Linked DNA regions of Homo sapiens. The protein of the gene in region 2 interacts with the protein of the main gene of each other region in a biochemical or structural test. Each region holds a gene or a part of one and is shown on either strand. Other genes may lie near its edges. The genes, in order: OTUD3 and BHLHE22.

Region 1 (7,528 bases), on a different chromosome or scaffold from region 2:
AGGTTCTCAGTTTTAATGAAATGTCTTTCTTTGGAAGATGCAGAAGAGAATCTTGAGCCCAGTGGTCGAGTGCTGAAGCAGTGTGGCCCTTTGTGGGAGGAGGGTGGCAGTGGTGCCAGAATCTTTGGAAATCAGGGCTTAAATGAAGGCAGGACCGAAAACAATAAGGCACAGGCCAGCCCTAGTGAAGAAAACAAAGCAAATAAAAACCAGCTCGCAAAGGTATGTAAGATGGGGTTGAATGGGCAGGTGGTGGGCAGGTGTAATTCTGTGGCAGTGGTGGTAGCTTGAGATTAATTTTATTTGTATTTTCCTTCTGATTTATAAAAGTAGTGTGGAAAATCTGGGGAATGCATAAAGCTACATCAAGAAGCAGAATGACCTCACTTATCCTGTTTGGTGTATGCCGTGACAGTTGGAAGGAAATACACCCTGAAATTGTCCTCAGTGTACAAATGAAAAGCCTCCTTTTCCCACCTAACATTACTGTACATGTGGGCTCTTCCCATGTTTATCCATGTTTTTTATAAATGCCATGATCTGCAATGAACACCTTTGTGTATAAATCTTTGGTTTTTGCATTATTTTCTTGAATAAAGTCCCAGAAGAGGAATGAACAGGTTAAAGGTCATGGATACATGAATCTTTTAAAGGCTTTTGGTAAATTGTCACGTGCTTCCCAGAAAGGTACATCTCCCTCCCTGCCCTTCACTCCCACAAGTAGTATGTGACATCTTCCATTTTACTGAATTTGGAATCATTTTAAAGATTTTCACCAAGAAGTTCTGAGCTCAAAATGCCACAGTGTAAAAAGCCACAGCAGAGGCAGAGATGCAATAAGCTTCTGAGGATTTTGTCAGAATTACCTGGGGCATTAAATTATGTGGGGAAAAATGTTCTCTGACACGTTTGTTTGTTACCAACTCTTGCTGGATGAGGGCTGGTTTCTTTAAGAGAAGAATGGAATTGATTTTGTTTGCTAGTTCAGCAAGGAAATATAAATTTAAATGCAAATTTGAGCAGCAGTGGACAGTAAATCATCTTTGGCGTCTTAGATTGGTTTTCCCTGTTCCTGCTGAAAAGCAATCTGTGCCCTTTGCCACCATCTCCCTTCTAGCAGGTGGCAGCTTGAGTCCCCCGTGCTTCCTACTCACCACCATGGCCTTCTCTCTCAGGTCACAAACAAACAGAGGCGAGAACAGCAGTGGATGGAGAAGAAGAAGCGGCAGGAGGAGAGGCACCGCCACAAAGCCCTGGAGAGCAGAGGTAGCCACAGGGACAATAACAGAAGCGAAGCAGAGGCGAACACGCAGGTCACCTTGGTGAAGACCTTCGCCGCTCTCAACATCTGACTCTTTGGCCTCTTGGGAGTTGTAAGAAGCGGCTGGAAAAGGATTGCTGTGTGCTAGACTTTCCAGTGAGGCCGTCCTTTTATAAAACGCAACACAACCAACGAAGCCCACACATGAGCTCACACACTGAGTTAGTTTCGTTCAAGCTGCCTCTTTTTTTGTTCGAAGTTTTATTAGTGATATGTTGGTGTTTTATGAAAATGCAGTGAGGCCATTCATATTCTGTAATACAAAATTAAAATACTGAGTTTTAGGGGCAGATAGTTAGGTCAGGAAAAACCTTTTAAGTGGTGGCTTTATTTGCCCTGAAAATCAGACTTCAGTGACCCTAGGATCTTTCCTTAACATTTGGGGTGAGTTTTGCTGTAATTGTTCATGAGTAGTTTAGAATAATTGTTAGAAATTCAGAATGACAAGTTTCCTTAGTTTCTCTTTCATTCTCAAACAGATATATAGGGTAGCTTATAAATGATCTCCAACTCAGGAATATGCTTTGATTTACTTCTAATCCAAGTTACTCAGAAAATAATTCAGGAATTGTTTTCCCAAAGTTACGTGAGGGTTGTGGCCTGCAGTCAGGATGGAAATTAACCGCATTTCTCTCCTTCCTGATTCTGATGTTATTTCAGATGGGATGCAGGTGCTGTTAGTTCATTTGCACTCAAGCCATATGATAAATGCAGCTGACTGTTAATTAGGCCTGGCCTTGTTGGGAAGTTGATAGTGGTGTTGGGTTTTTGGTATTTGTTTCCTGACAGTGGGGAGATGGCATGTTACTGCTTGTGATACAGTTCTGGAATTCTGATAGTGTGTAGAGCAGGGTCTATAGTTGTAACAGGAGACGAACTCCTGGGGTTTTGCCTAAGAGGAGTCTAAAGAATTATGTTTTTATAGGAGAAGCCTGGAAGAATAAGGTTTTTCATGTTCGCATTTTAAATAACGATTTTCTTCCCTTCTGTTGTAGACTTAGATGCCTTCAGAGAGATACGTGGTAACTTGACCTTATAGGTCGCTAAACTTAGTATTGTGGAAATTAAATCTTATAAAATGCTACATTTATTTCTTTTTATTTAAGCCCTGTTTGGCATTTCAAAGTTGGGAAAACTCCAGCATCTGCTGGAAGTTGTTGGACCAGCAGGGTTGGTTGACTTAGGTTGGACCAGCAGAGAAGAGAACATACTTTGGTTGAGGCCTTCGAATCACTCTTCAGTTCTGAAATAGACAGACTTGAGCAGTGGAGAGACGTCTTTCCTAAAACTGAGTTAGGTGGATGTGAACTTAAGAACTATAACGTATGAGGCAGCCCATCTTGGATCATCTTTGTCTTTTGGGACCTAATACTTGGGCAAATAATTGATGCTGAGTTGAAAGGTAAATTATTAGTTATCTTCCCCACCCCTCGCATTTCAGAATTATAAAAATTCGGAGGCAAATTGAAAACTAAAATGTTTGGTAGGCCCTGGAGTCGCCAGATTGTCTTTATCACCAGGCCTTTGGCTTTCTTCAGTTTCACTGGTATCTTTTGGTTTTGTTTTTGACTTTGGTGGCTTTTTGTAGTTGGAGCATCAGTAGTCTCTTGGAATTGCTCCTAGGACATTGTGGTTTAGGTTTCTTCCTGGGTACAGTACATTGTAAAATTTAGCAGATTAAAAAAAGTACACAGCATTTTTTTTCTGTGCACGTCGCAGAGTCCTGAGCTTGAGGCTGTGTTACTCTACTCATTCCAAACGAATGAAAGATCTCTGTTGCCTTACTCTAAGGAAGTGGGATCGAGTGCGTTAGGATCTATGGTTGTCTTGGTTTTCAACTCTGGGCAGATTCCTGACTGGCTGAGTGTTTCTGAATGAAGATGTTTTCCTGTCTGTTTTGTACTGCTTGAGTGCAGAGGCCAGATCCTCTCAGAAAGATAAGATTGTATGCCAGAAATTCAGATTAGCAGTCAGCTTAAGAGAGACTTATTGTCAGAAGTAGTAGAATTGCTTTATTTACTTGGTTAATGAAGGTGGCCTTGGGCCCTATTGGGTTTTAGAAGTTTTAGAAGCTGCTAAAAAGTTATTAAAGAATATTGGGAACATTTATTTTTTAAATTACCTAATTCTGGTAATAGGCTTCAGCATTTCTGGAGTATAATAATGGTGGTTTAAAAAACTAATCAAACGGCTTTAGTAATTTTACTACTGGTTTCACAGCTTTTCAGTTACAGTTGGTCTGTTTAGTGTGTTAATTATTAGGAATCGGGTACATGCATCCAACTTCAGTGATACCTTCTAGCTAATGGTTTCAATTTAGACTTCACTGCCTCAGTCTCACTGGGTACATGAGAAGGTTGGAATCAACATGCTTAGTTGCCTCAGTGGGCACTTGAAAATTCCTTCACTGGCAGCCCGAGTGGAGGCCCAGTATGTCTAGTCCTGGGATGACTGTTGTCAGCAGCTGTTACTCTAGTACAGGTGCTCCTGTGAACTCTTTATTAGGAACTGAATGTGTCTTAACCTCTGTGTTACATCTTGGCTGGCAGAGATTTATGTTACATGAGATTGTCTTGGTAGCTTGTAGTGTGGTCAGGAGAAAGGGGATGGAGCAGTGGTGCATAGCTGCTTACTGCTCTTATAAACGGTATATAAAGGTTTTACGGATTTTGAAAATATTTTTTTTTAGAGGTCAAAATAAATACCATTTTAGTGGCAACAGCTTTGAACTAGAGAGGTAGATGTATTAAAGCAGCATAGAACCATAACTTCTAGATAATGTAGTTGCCACTAGGAGATATTAGAAAGTTAGAATGTATGTGTGTATTTAGTTTTTCAATAATAATGAACATACACTTTCAGGAGCAAAGTATGGTTGAGAAATTGTGGCAGAAAGAATTTTAAATGTTAGTCGAAGTTGTCTGTAGTTTCTTTATTAAGCTCTGAAAACACTTCCAATGCCAGTTTGATTCTGAGGGCTTGGGAAGTGGGATCTCCCTTGTGGAGCAGCTGGAGCTGGCTGGGAGGGAGCCTCTCCATGGGTAATTTATTATGCCTGCCCTGCTTCCCCCAGGGAGCTGCTTCAGTGTGAAATGATGTGATTGTCGGGGGTGGGGTGGGAGGAGGGCCACCTTCAGTCGGGGAGTTGCTCACATATTACACAGGTAGCATCAGGTGGACTTCAGCGCTGAACTGTACTAGTAGTGAGTCCCTGTAGTCAATGTGCAATTTCTCTAATTCTGAGAAACTCTGTAGACTCTGCCTGGGTTTTACTGGGTCAGCATAGAATGCTATCAGTTTACCTCTGTGAAATATTCAGTCAGTTGAAGGAAACTTGGATTCCTAGTCAGAGGTGACTAAAAGTTACCCTGACCAAAAGGATCTCTGCGGGGGGAAGAGAATGGAGCTTCCTGATTTTAATGTGTTGCGTCAGTGGCCCTCTTCGACTCCCGTTTTGGGTAGATGCGTAGCTCTTCACTTTCTTACCTCAAGGCTCTGTCTAGCCATGTTAAATCTTTAGACTCAGTCTGATGCCGTTTTTCTGTTTTGCCATTCTCATTATTCACAGCTTTCAGAACAAGTGTTGCTAAAACTCCGGGGCCTTTGACAGTTGTTCTGAGGTGATTTAATAATGGACTTTTTATAAGTTATGTTTTCCTGGCTCTAAAGTAAATTTTTTTTTTTTTTTTTTTGAGACAGAGTCTTGCTTTGTTGCCCAGGCTGGAGTGTGGTGGGGCAATCTCGGCTCACTGCAACCTCCACCTCCCGGGTTCAAGCGATTCTCCTGCCTCAGCCTCCTGAGTAGCTGGGATTACAGGTGTGTGCCACCATGCTTGGCTAATTTTTGTATTTTTAGTAGAGACGGGGTTTCACCATGTTAGCCAGGCTGGTCTCAAACTCCTGACCTTGTGATCTGCCCGCCTCAGCCTCCCAAAGTGCTAGGATTACGGGTGTGAGCAACCCTGCCCGGCCAGTAAATTGTATTTTTTTAATGACATCATTGATTTGAAGATCTAGATGGCATAAATTACGACGTCTGCCATCGCATATTAGAAAGGGGACAGTCATATTTGTAACGTGGAGAGAACACGGAGCACCAGTCACCACGTGCACTTAGGATGCAGAGCTTACCGCACACCGCTGATGGGGACCTCCGGAAAGAGCGGTGCCTTGTGGTTGGCCTGGAAGTTCTCTCCCAAGGTGAAATTCCTTTAAAACCTCAGGCTCTGACCTATGTCTTTGAAGCAGCTGCTTTGTAGAGTCCCTCTCTTTACTGTCCTCGTTAGGACTGTTTTGTGGTTCCATGAAAATGTTTAGCATCCTTGCAGAATTACTTGAGAAGGGGCTGGTACCAGTGTAAAGAATCTATTTCTGTAAAACTACGAACTTTTGCATAGGGAATTTATTCTAAGCAGGTCATAGCCGTGATCCAGAGCTGCTGCTGCTCACTGCCAGTCCTTGCGGCTGGCGGCGATTGCCGGACAGACTCTCTGTGGCCTGGCTCTCATCCTTGGCGTGTCAGCCTGCGGCAGGCTGCCAGCCATCCATGACAATCATGTGAGCTCAGCCACAGACCTCAGCTGGCGGTTTGATCCCTGGCAGGTCCCTCGAGCAGTACTGGTAAGAGGCTTCACACATTTTCCCACTCTTACAGTTCATTTTTCATAGTAGGAAGGGCCCTTGGCCTCCCCAGTGCCTCTTCCAGAGCCTCCACCAGCACTAAGCTCAGAGGAAAGAAGAAAAGGGCCAGGAGTCAGACGTCACACCCGGGGGCTCCCCTTTCCCATGTAGAAGTGTTGGCATGCGTCAGTCTCCTTTACAGAGGGGTGGATGTATCCGTGGAGGAGGGGCCTTCTCTCTTTCTAATTGCACTATACTTGTTCTAGCTTCAGTCTGGAGATACTTAAGACCTCCATGGGGTCGTGATCCATAGACTTAGCAAGTCTTGCCTTATCTATGGAGCTCGATGGTGAGAATTGTGACCATTGTCTGATGTCCATAGTTCCTTCCCCCTAGATTGTTTCTTTCCACGGATTGTGTTCATCTGAACCATTTTATTTTTTATTTACCAAAGTACTGTACTTGGCTATTTGCAGTGTTTTCAAAACCAAATGTTTCTTTTTTTGTGTTTTTAATCTTCGATACTTGGTGCAATAGAAGCTGCAAAGATGTGCCACTTTATCTATGAAATGGAGTTTTGTATACCAATAAATTCTAGTTTAAAAACAAAGTTTTAAGTTGTTTTTATCAGTATCTGACCACCGTTTGAGTGAATGCAAGGAGGCTGAGTGTGCTGGGAAATGTCCTTTTTGGAGACCTTTGTGTGGAAGCTTTGCGTGTTTGCGTGTGCTGGATTGAGTATTCTAGGTGTATAATAGTACTTTGGGATCTGACTAAGCTTAGAACAGCTGATTTTTGCTTTAGTGCAGCTAAATGCAGCCACCAAACACAATGGCAGGGTCATTCTTAAGGACTACACACTTAAGATTTCTGCCTGATATCTGAGAGCATCTCTTGATAAGTTTGAAACTGTTTAAATATGTAGCAGTTGTCTGTCAGCGGCCACTTTGGGCTCCTCTAGAACTCTCAAGATTGTTTGACCCCATTCAAGGAGGAGGCTCCCTGCCAAGGCACAGACAGTACCATCTGGGGGCACAACTCACCTAGAAGGGTCCACAGGAAACCAGAGCGAAGGGAGTCCTTCATTGCGTCCAGCAGGGGCCCCATCCACACAAGGGCTCTGGCTCGGCAGACCTCACCATGTCATGATTTTGACCTTGAGACTCCCATTCTCCCATTCTTCATTTTGTATTCAACAAGCAGCCTTCTGAATTGGCTCCCTGTTGCCTTGACACAAAAAAGGACTAGATGGTTTTCTGGATGAAAGTCAAGAATATTCTAGCTTCTGCAAGCAGATTCTCCCACAATCTCTCAAGTGATCTTCTCTGTGTGATTCTTCTTCAGTCCACAACTGAGAGACCCATCATCTCTGGATAGACACACACTGTCTGGTTCCTGAGCCTGTGAGGCCCAGATTCCAGACCCCATTTAACCTGAGATTCTTCCAGGAAATCTGCTATGGTCCAAAGTGATGTCCCAATCCAGGTGCTGCCCGCACACTGGAAAACTTCCATGGCCTCCTTAATCCCATTCCAGGGATTCAGCTGGGGCCAGGTGGCTGCTGCTAGGGATTAGAGGGGCTTCCTG
Region 2 (7,858 bases):
AAACAGCCATGCAAAACTAAAACTGAAAGCTCACTTTGGGTAAATAGCTTCTTGTTCTTCCTTAGTTTTCTTTCTTTTTAAATTTTATTTTTTTAGAAAAATAACAAAGGATTTCACACCATAGGCAAATCAAACCAGTCTTTTAACTTAAATAATTCTCCACAGTTAAAATAACATATATGTACATATATATTAAAAGCAATTAAATTAGACCTTTTAAAAATGCACAGCACAGCCTGGAAAAATATTTGCTTAGCATGTTCTTACGTATAGCAACTATTGCTGTGATGTTTTTCCCTTTTGGAATGTAAAGGAGTCCCCTTTCAAAAAAGAGATCAATTCATTCATCAATTAAGAATACACCTTTCCTGTAATTTTTGGACTGAAGCAATTTATTAAAGCTCAATTTAAATACAGGGATGATGCAACTGAAAATATCCAGGTGACCTTTCATAAACCTAAGCAGCTCAGATACATCAATATTTCTCTTCATACTTGTTGGCAAATAAACCTTTAAACACTTGGCACACAGCATAAGTAATCTATAAAACAATTTTAGAGGCATTAAAAAAATCTGCACATAAGACCCATGACTTTAACACATGATAAATACTGTTGATGTGGAAGGGTCATTGAAGAATAACAAATAAATACCATGAATTGTTAATACATCATTGCAGAGTAGAAAGTAACAAGGTGCACATAAATATTTTTAAATGCAATTCTTTCAGCCACAGTCAGTTTTTTTATATCACTCTCGCCAAAACTTTGAGCATTTTCACAGGATTAAAGTTCAGAGACAATAAAAAATACAAGTCTTTCATAGTAACATGTCTCTCTCTCTCGCTCTCTCTCTCTCTCTGGGTTTTATTTCCCCCTCACTTAAGTCAACATTTCAAGTTTTTCTCCTGGCTCAGAATCAAAATTTATTTTCAAGTGCCCTTTCTGATTTGTCTGAATGAATATTCCATCTCTCATGCTACCCAACCCCTAACCCCTCCTCTCCCCCTCAGCACTAGCCAAATCCACAATTATTAGTAGGATTAGTATTTTGCCATTCAAACACTCTCCAGGCTTAATAACCAAGCACTACTTCTCAACTTATGTTTCACCTTTAAGGAAGATTCCACTTCCTCGCGGTCTAGGCTGCCACCAAAGTTGCCACTTTTCTGAGAAAAAAAAGACATCCATACTCCATCCCAACTCCACCTCCCTCCTCCCTCCCTCCCCACCCCAAAGACCGAGATTCTGGGGATGTCAAGGCTAAAAGTCCCGTTTGTCTCTGATACTTCTCCTCAGTTCTTGCCTCTGCTTTGTTTGCTCTGCAAGTGTTTCACAACTACGAGAGGACCAAAATAAAGGGGGTGGGGAGCAGCTTTTCGCTTTCCTCTAGATTTTGGGTCGGTCTTGTGTTTTTCGGGGGTGTGTTTAAGGCTTCTCCGTGCACTGTTTGCAGAGGCTGGAGGAGACGCTGTTAAACAGGGCGCACTTCTCCGGGCAGGAGGCAGCCGGGGGCAGTCCGGCGCTGAACGGGTAGCCGGCTGCCTGCTCGTAGGCGCCGAGCGCCGGGTGCAGGGCAGCAGCTGCTGCCGCTGCAGCCGCCGAGCTGGGCAGGGAGGCAGCCGAGATGGCCTGGCCCTGGTTGAGGTAGGCGACTAGGCGCCGCATCTCCTCCAGGGCCTGCGCCTGCATGAGGATGTAGTTCTTGGCGAGCAGCAGCGTGGCGATCTTGGAGAGCTTTCGCACCGAGGGGCTGTGCGCGTAGGGGATCACCGCGCGCAGCTCGTCCAGCGCGTCGTTCAGGTCGTGCATCCGCCGGCGCTCTCGGGCATTGATGTTAAGCCGCAGCGCCTTTTGCTCTTTGGATTTCTTGCTGCTGCTGCTGCTGCTGCTGCTGCTGCCGCCGCTGCCGCTACCGCTACCGCCACCGCCGCCACTGCTACCGCTGCTGCTACCCCCGCCGCCGCCGCCGCCCAGGCCCCCCGGGGGGACGCTGGCGCCGCCGTGGAGGTGGGCATTGGAGCAGCCCTCGGCTGCCTTCGCGCCACCACCTCCCGCTCCCGGGGAGGCCCGCGGGTCGGCTACTCCGGCCCGCAGCACGAGCTCGCAGCGACCGTCGCTGTCGTCGTCGGGGCTCTGCTCGCCGCCGCTGCTCTCGGCCACCGAGCCCCGGCTCGCGCTTTCGCCGTACTTGAGGCAAAGGGCGGCCCCGGCCGGCAGGCTGCTTAGGCTAGGGTCGCCCCCAACGCCGGCTGAACCTACTAGCAGCCCGGGGACACCCACCCCGCCGCCGCCGCCGCCGCCACTTCCCGCGCTGCCGCCGCCGCCTCCTCCAGGCGGCGGCAACAGCAGCCCTGCCCCCTCGGGGTCAGCCGGCTCGAAGCAGCCCAGGGGCGACGAGGAGGAGGACGCCGGGCGTTCCCGAGGCGGCGGCGCCAGGGACAGGTCCATGCCCGGGGGCGTGGAGCGGAAAGCCGCTTCCAAGCGCTTGGAGGTGGAGGCGCTCAGGCTCTTGTGCAGGAAGAGGTCGTCCTCGCCGGCGGCCGCTGCACCGAGGTGCATCCCGCGCTCCATGGTCCCGCGCCGGCGCGCAGCCCGGGCCGCCGCGCCCGCTGCCGCCGCCGCCGCCTCGGCCCCGGAGTCAGGCGGCCCCACAGACGCGCGCGAGCTGGGCTCCGGAGCTGGTGCGCGCGTCGGTCCTGGTGCTGCCGGGAGCCCTCTCCCCTTCTTTCTTTTTCTTTTTCGCCTTCCCCCGCGCTCGCCGCCTCCTCTTCTTCTTCTTCTTCGTCTCCAGCCGATGGTGCTGGCTGCTGGGGCTCACCATGGGCCGCGGCCCCGCATGGTGGGAGGGTGGGCGCGGAGGGAGTGGAGCCGCCGCCGCCGCCGCTCTGAGCCCAGCCCCGCGCCTCCTCTCCGCACCGTTTATCTTGCTTGGATTCACCTTCAAGAGATTTCCGGACCCATCAAACAGCCGCCGCCACAGACGGGGGAGTCTTTTACATCATTATCTCTGAGTAGGTTATTATGAAGAAGACTCGCCTGTTGGGACAGCGCTTTCTACCCAATCAGGTTAACGTTTTAATTAATAGGATTAAAACGGTAACAAACAATCGCAGGCGCTATCTGGCCGCAAGTCTGAATAGTTTCATTTCCCAGGTCTGAAGACAGGCAGCAGCTAGAGCTTTATAAAAGGCGCCTGCTCCATTATTCTGCCTGCCATCTGTATACACAGCTTAGCGCATATGTTTGCAAGGCGCTGGGTCCTGTTAGTAACCCAACAACTGCCTTTAGCTTGACATGTGTGGCGACTTTCACTCATCAATGAGCACACTAAAAGCCCTACTTAGAGCCGAGGATGTTCTTTGCTCCTTCAGCAAATTGTAGATCGGCGGCGAAGCCTGGGAGTCCTGTGGAAAGCAGACGCCCCCACCCACCGCACCCCACCCCCCACTGCCCTTCCCTCGCCACTGCTGTCTCAGCTTGTGCTAAATTACCCTTCCGGGCGAGAATTATACTCCACCCCTGTTCGTAGGATGACTGGTCTGGATTTGGGGATGGGACTTTCCGAGAGAAGGTGGTGTCCCAGCTGGCTTGCCCAAAATTCACTCTAGGTTTTCAGCTGGTCAGAGAGCAAAGCAGTCGTCCCCCCGAACACTCTGCCTCGTTTCCACACCCGCCACTGCCCATTTCCTACCCAGATTGGAAAAAAAGAAAGAAAAAAGCAAAATGAAGAGCAAGTGATCATGCAGCCCATTTTTTTTTAAGGTGGGGTGGCAGTGATTTTGCAGTGGTCTCCAAATAACTGTTACAGTGATGGTAATTGTGAAGTACACAATTTCCTAAACAGGAAGAAAACAAACAAACAAACCGGTTTCTCAAACTTTCCTTAAGATGAAAATCTGATTGCTTCAAAAGAGTCAACTTCACCAGGAGTCAAATCCGCTCCCACACGAAGTGAGGCATTTATGCATATTTATTTACCCGGAAGCCATTTAAGGACATCTGGATCAGCCTCGGTTGTTCTTGGAGGGTTCGGGAAGGGAGAATGTAAAAACAAGTGCTCCTCTCCGGATGGGCACTGGTACACGCGGTCATCTCACTCCTGAGTTCGGTCTCTGGGTACACATGGTATTTAGCAGCTGGTTTTCATCCTTATGACATAAGTAAAAACAATATTTCCCAACACCTTCCAATAACTCTTTCTTATATGGCAGAAGTACTGAAGACTATGCAATTTTTGGTTTCTCTGGTTTCATTAAAAACCTTTTAATTGTGGCTTTCGGAGTTGGCCCCAGGTGTTGGACTCTTTTCATTACATTTTGCTCTAATGTGATGAAATTCTAATTCTCTCCTTACCATATGGTTAAATTTCCCCACTGAGAATTAGTTGAAAAAGGAGAAATAATCTATTAATCTCTGTAATAGATTCACAAATGAGGTTCGCCACAGAACCTGTTTTTGAATGGTAATATCAGAACAGTTGGGCACCTTATTTCATAAAGGAAGGGTGAGGGCGACACAAAAATGTCTGTATTTTCACCTGGAAAGGATGAAAGGGGCTCAGCAGTATCTTCCATAATAATTCCCTGAGATCCAGTCTTCCGGGGACAGAAATACTACGTAGACGTCGGTTACCTACGCTCCTTTGGATGTCCTGGAACCTAAAGACTGAGAAAGATCAGGCGGGGCTACGGGAGGCTCTTGTGCCTGGGACCGAGACCGGGGGTTCTGCAGGCTTGAGCGGTCCCACTTGTCTCGTCTGGGACCCCGAGGCTGTTTACATGCAGGGCAGCCCCTCGCTCACCGCACCCCTCCCACCGTCCCTCCCCCGGCGTTCGCAGCTGTTAACCTCTCCCTTTAGAAAGCTAAAGACACGCTAGTGTTATTGTTTTTCAATTAGCAGCTTTGTTTTCACTGGGATCATAAACAAAGGTTCTCTCTAAACATAGGTGGGTCGTGTATGCATGACACTAACTTATCAAAGTCCTTGGGTCACTTTCGGGAGGGCGGAGGCTGGCCCGGTCGTGGCTCTGGGCAGGATGGGGACACATCTCACAATGTCTGACTTAGTTCTCCAGCCAGCTTGCCCTTTTTGTGGGCTGCCACCTTCTGCGGGGCGCCAGGATTCTTGCCGGCCCGAAGTGGACATTTGAAGGGCGAAGGATCGATCATGTCAGGGACTGGTGGGGGGTGCCATGCGGGGCTGTGAGCGGCAGAGCCGGGATGGCAGAGCAGGGGCGACACTGAGGGCGGCAAAGGCCCTGCCAGCTCAGCTAGACCCAGGATCTTCGCAGGACCTTTGTCTTTCGCCCTTAGGCAACAAACACTTGAGCGCATCTCGTGGCCCTTCCCGACCCCATCTCCACGACCTCCTGCCACCTCCCTCCTCTCCCTGGCCATCCAAGCTTCTGGAACAAACTTTTGCACAACTTCATTTTACTCGGTAGGAGCCAAAAGCCTCTTCCTTTTGTAATTCAAGAAAATCCCCCTAGTCTTCCCGGAGGAGGTGGCTGCTTAATAGTCGCTGAAAACTTTGCTTTGGGAAAAGGCCGAAGAATTTATGGAAGCTCTAAATACCGGCCTTATAACAACCGATAGGGAATGGTCTTTGAGGTTTATGCACTCGTAAACTTTTGCTGATTGCTTCTGGGAAGTTGTCAGGCACTTAACACTGCATTTATCTTACAGGGCAATGAAAACACATCTGCCCGGTGTCTCGTTACTTGGTTTAATCGTCGCCAGCCCTAAGTCACGGCCTCGGCTCCCTCTCCTCAACTGTGTGGGATCCCGCCGCCTGGTTTCGGCCGGGCGGAGGGGTGACGTCAGCCGCTCACACAGTGCCCCCTGGCCGCTGGAGCTCGGGAAATCTGTGCGCTCGAACTTGGCTCCGCCAAGAAGCTGGGCAAGGATCCGGGCTCCTGATGGAACTGGCAAGTTGGAAAAGTGGCAAAGGAAAAGCCAACATGAGCGCTTTCGGCTTGCGCGGGCAGAAAGGGTGGGAAATCAGGCCACGGCGAAATCTTCTGACTCACAGATGACCGCTTAGAATGAAAACTACGGAAGGGAAGTCCTCTGACTCTGCAGTTTCACAGAGAGTCACTGAGTTACCAAAGCAGTTGGGAAACAGAGGCAGAGGACTGCCCCCACTCTGTCCGCAGCAGGGGTATGGGAGGCAGCTCGGGACACTCCAGGGACCAAGCGGGCAGTGGGCGCCGTCCCCGAGGAACACCCAGCCCAGCGCCCCTGGTTCTGGGCTGGTTGGCTTATCGAGGCCGGTTGGCCAAAGCATCAGGAAAGGGAACATTCTCGGCCGGGTGTTGGATACCAAATTATAAACGCCAGAGCACCTTGTGTAAAGATGAATATCGTTTTGTTACTGCGGGAGGGAATACACCTACTGCTTTGAAAGGAGTTTAAAATATTCAGCAGACAGCACCGCATTGAAATTAGTGCATTGAGCTGCAGACCAAACTAATTTCTAGGTACTATTTAAATTTCTTAATGATCATCTTGATATTTGCTTGAAATTTGAGATAGGAACCCAAGTAAAATCAGAATGGAACATAATCTACTCTAAAGAGTAAAGCCAGAAGTTCGTCTTTGTTATTTTTATAGTACTGATAAATAGTTTATTACTTCACTAGTTTGAAAAGTTACAAGTCTGAATTTGGGTAGCTATGTGTATCTTCTGAGAAGGAAAATTGTCTCTCTGTGTTTTTCAATTTATCTCTTTCAGAACAGTCTAAAAAGTAAAAACAAAGTTTGGCAAAAATGACAACTTTGCTTGAGAACAGCTCTGGAAAAGCGAATCCACTGAGAGCCGTGGGAATTCTCCGCCAGCTGTGCTTCCCCAACCGAGGAAGAATCCAACCCGGAATATCGTTTCTGGACCCCACCGCGGAGACCCCAGCTGGACCCTCTCCTGAAAACTGCCCGGGGAGGGGGGTGCGGTCTCAGCGCCCTCCACTGCGGGGTCCAAGGCGCAGTAGCGGGGCGCGACCCCAGCGCTCCAAGCCCAGCATTCTTGGCAGCTCTCCAGGCCCCAGTCAGAGGCACATTGACCTTGAAGTTGCACTTGACTCGCCCACTCGGGGCTGCCTGGTGGCGCCTGGGTCAGCTTGAAACCCACGCAGCTGAGGGAGCTAGGTGTGGGGTTCACCATACTGCGCCCCCGCCGGATTTGGGAGCGCGGGATCTACTCGGAGGCAGAGAGATTAGCCCCAGAGGTCAAGCCTTTCGGCGTCGTTTTGTCATCTGTATTTTCTCGTCCCCTTCGCCGCCGAGTCCTACAAAGCTCACTTCAGAGAGACTGGGTCCACATGTGTGGGCTCATGAGGAGGAGGACAGCGAGGGTGACGACGCTGGGGGACTAGCGCGAGCTGGCGCATTCCTGGCAGTGAGCCAAGGGCCCCCCGTCTTGCTAGTCTTTCCAAGTTGCTTGGCAATTCCAAAAATTTCGACTGTGGGAAAGTTGAAACTTGTTCGTATAGCGTTCTTTCGAAAAGATTTTCCTTGTCTGTATCTATTTTACAGAAAACATACTGGTCCTCACTACTGTTTGGGGACGAGTTAGCCTAAATTTGAACAGACCTTGAAGACAAACCCTGAGCCCCGGGAGGCAGCCTTCTCAGCGCGAGGTGCACACACAAGTCCCCGAGCCCACCGCGAGGGTCTCACCTGGCTCCTGCGTGGTCTTTCCCCACTTTGGCGACTTTGAAGGCCAGGGGGACCGTACAGTGAGCGAATAACTTAGCGCCTGCATTATCACTGCTGAAACCTCAGAGAACAATGTAGGACATGCGGGTGCAGGTAGAGCAAAACTAGTGAAAAGAGTTTATGAGGAATTCATACCGCCTCG

The links.
Region 1: of the proteins of BHLHE22 (region 2) and OTUD3, one has a biochemical effect on the other in vitro, tested with the Homo sapiens proteins (one study listed by BioGRID).

The regions. Positions count from the first base shown.
Region 1 is NC_000001.11:19,906,395-19,913,922, forward strand, and holds the end of OTUD3 (OTU domain-containing protein 3), read left to right. Parts: intron 1-37; coding exon 38-222; intron 223-1,175; coding exon 1,176-1,352; 3' UTR 1,353-6,551; downstream 6,552-7,528.
Region 2 is NC_000008.11:64,575,507-64,583,364, reverse strand, and holds the start of BHLHE22 (class E basic helix-loop-helix protein 22), read right to left. Parts: upstream 3,001-7,858; 5' UTR 2,575-3,000; coding exon 1,429-2,574; 3' UTR 1-1,428. Other genes in the region: uncharacterized protein LOC124900252, read left to right, coding at 5,196-5,443, 5,689-6,046. UniProt on the Homo sapiens protein: Inhibits DNA binding of TCF3/E47 homodimers and TCF3 (E47)/NEUROD1 heterodimers and acts as a strong repressor of Neurod1 and Myod-responsive genes, probably by heterodimerization with class a basic helix-loop-helix factors.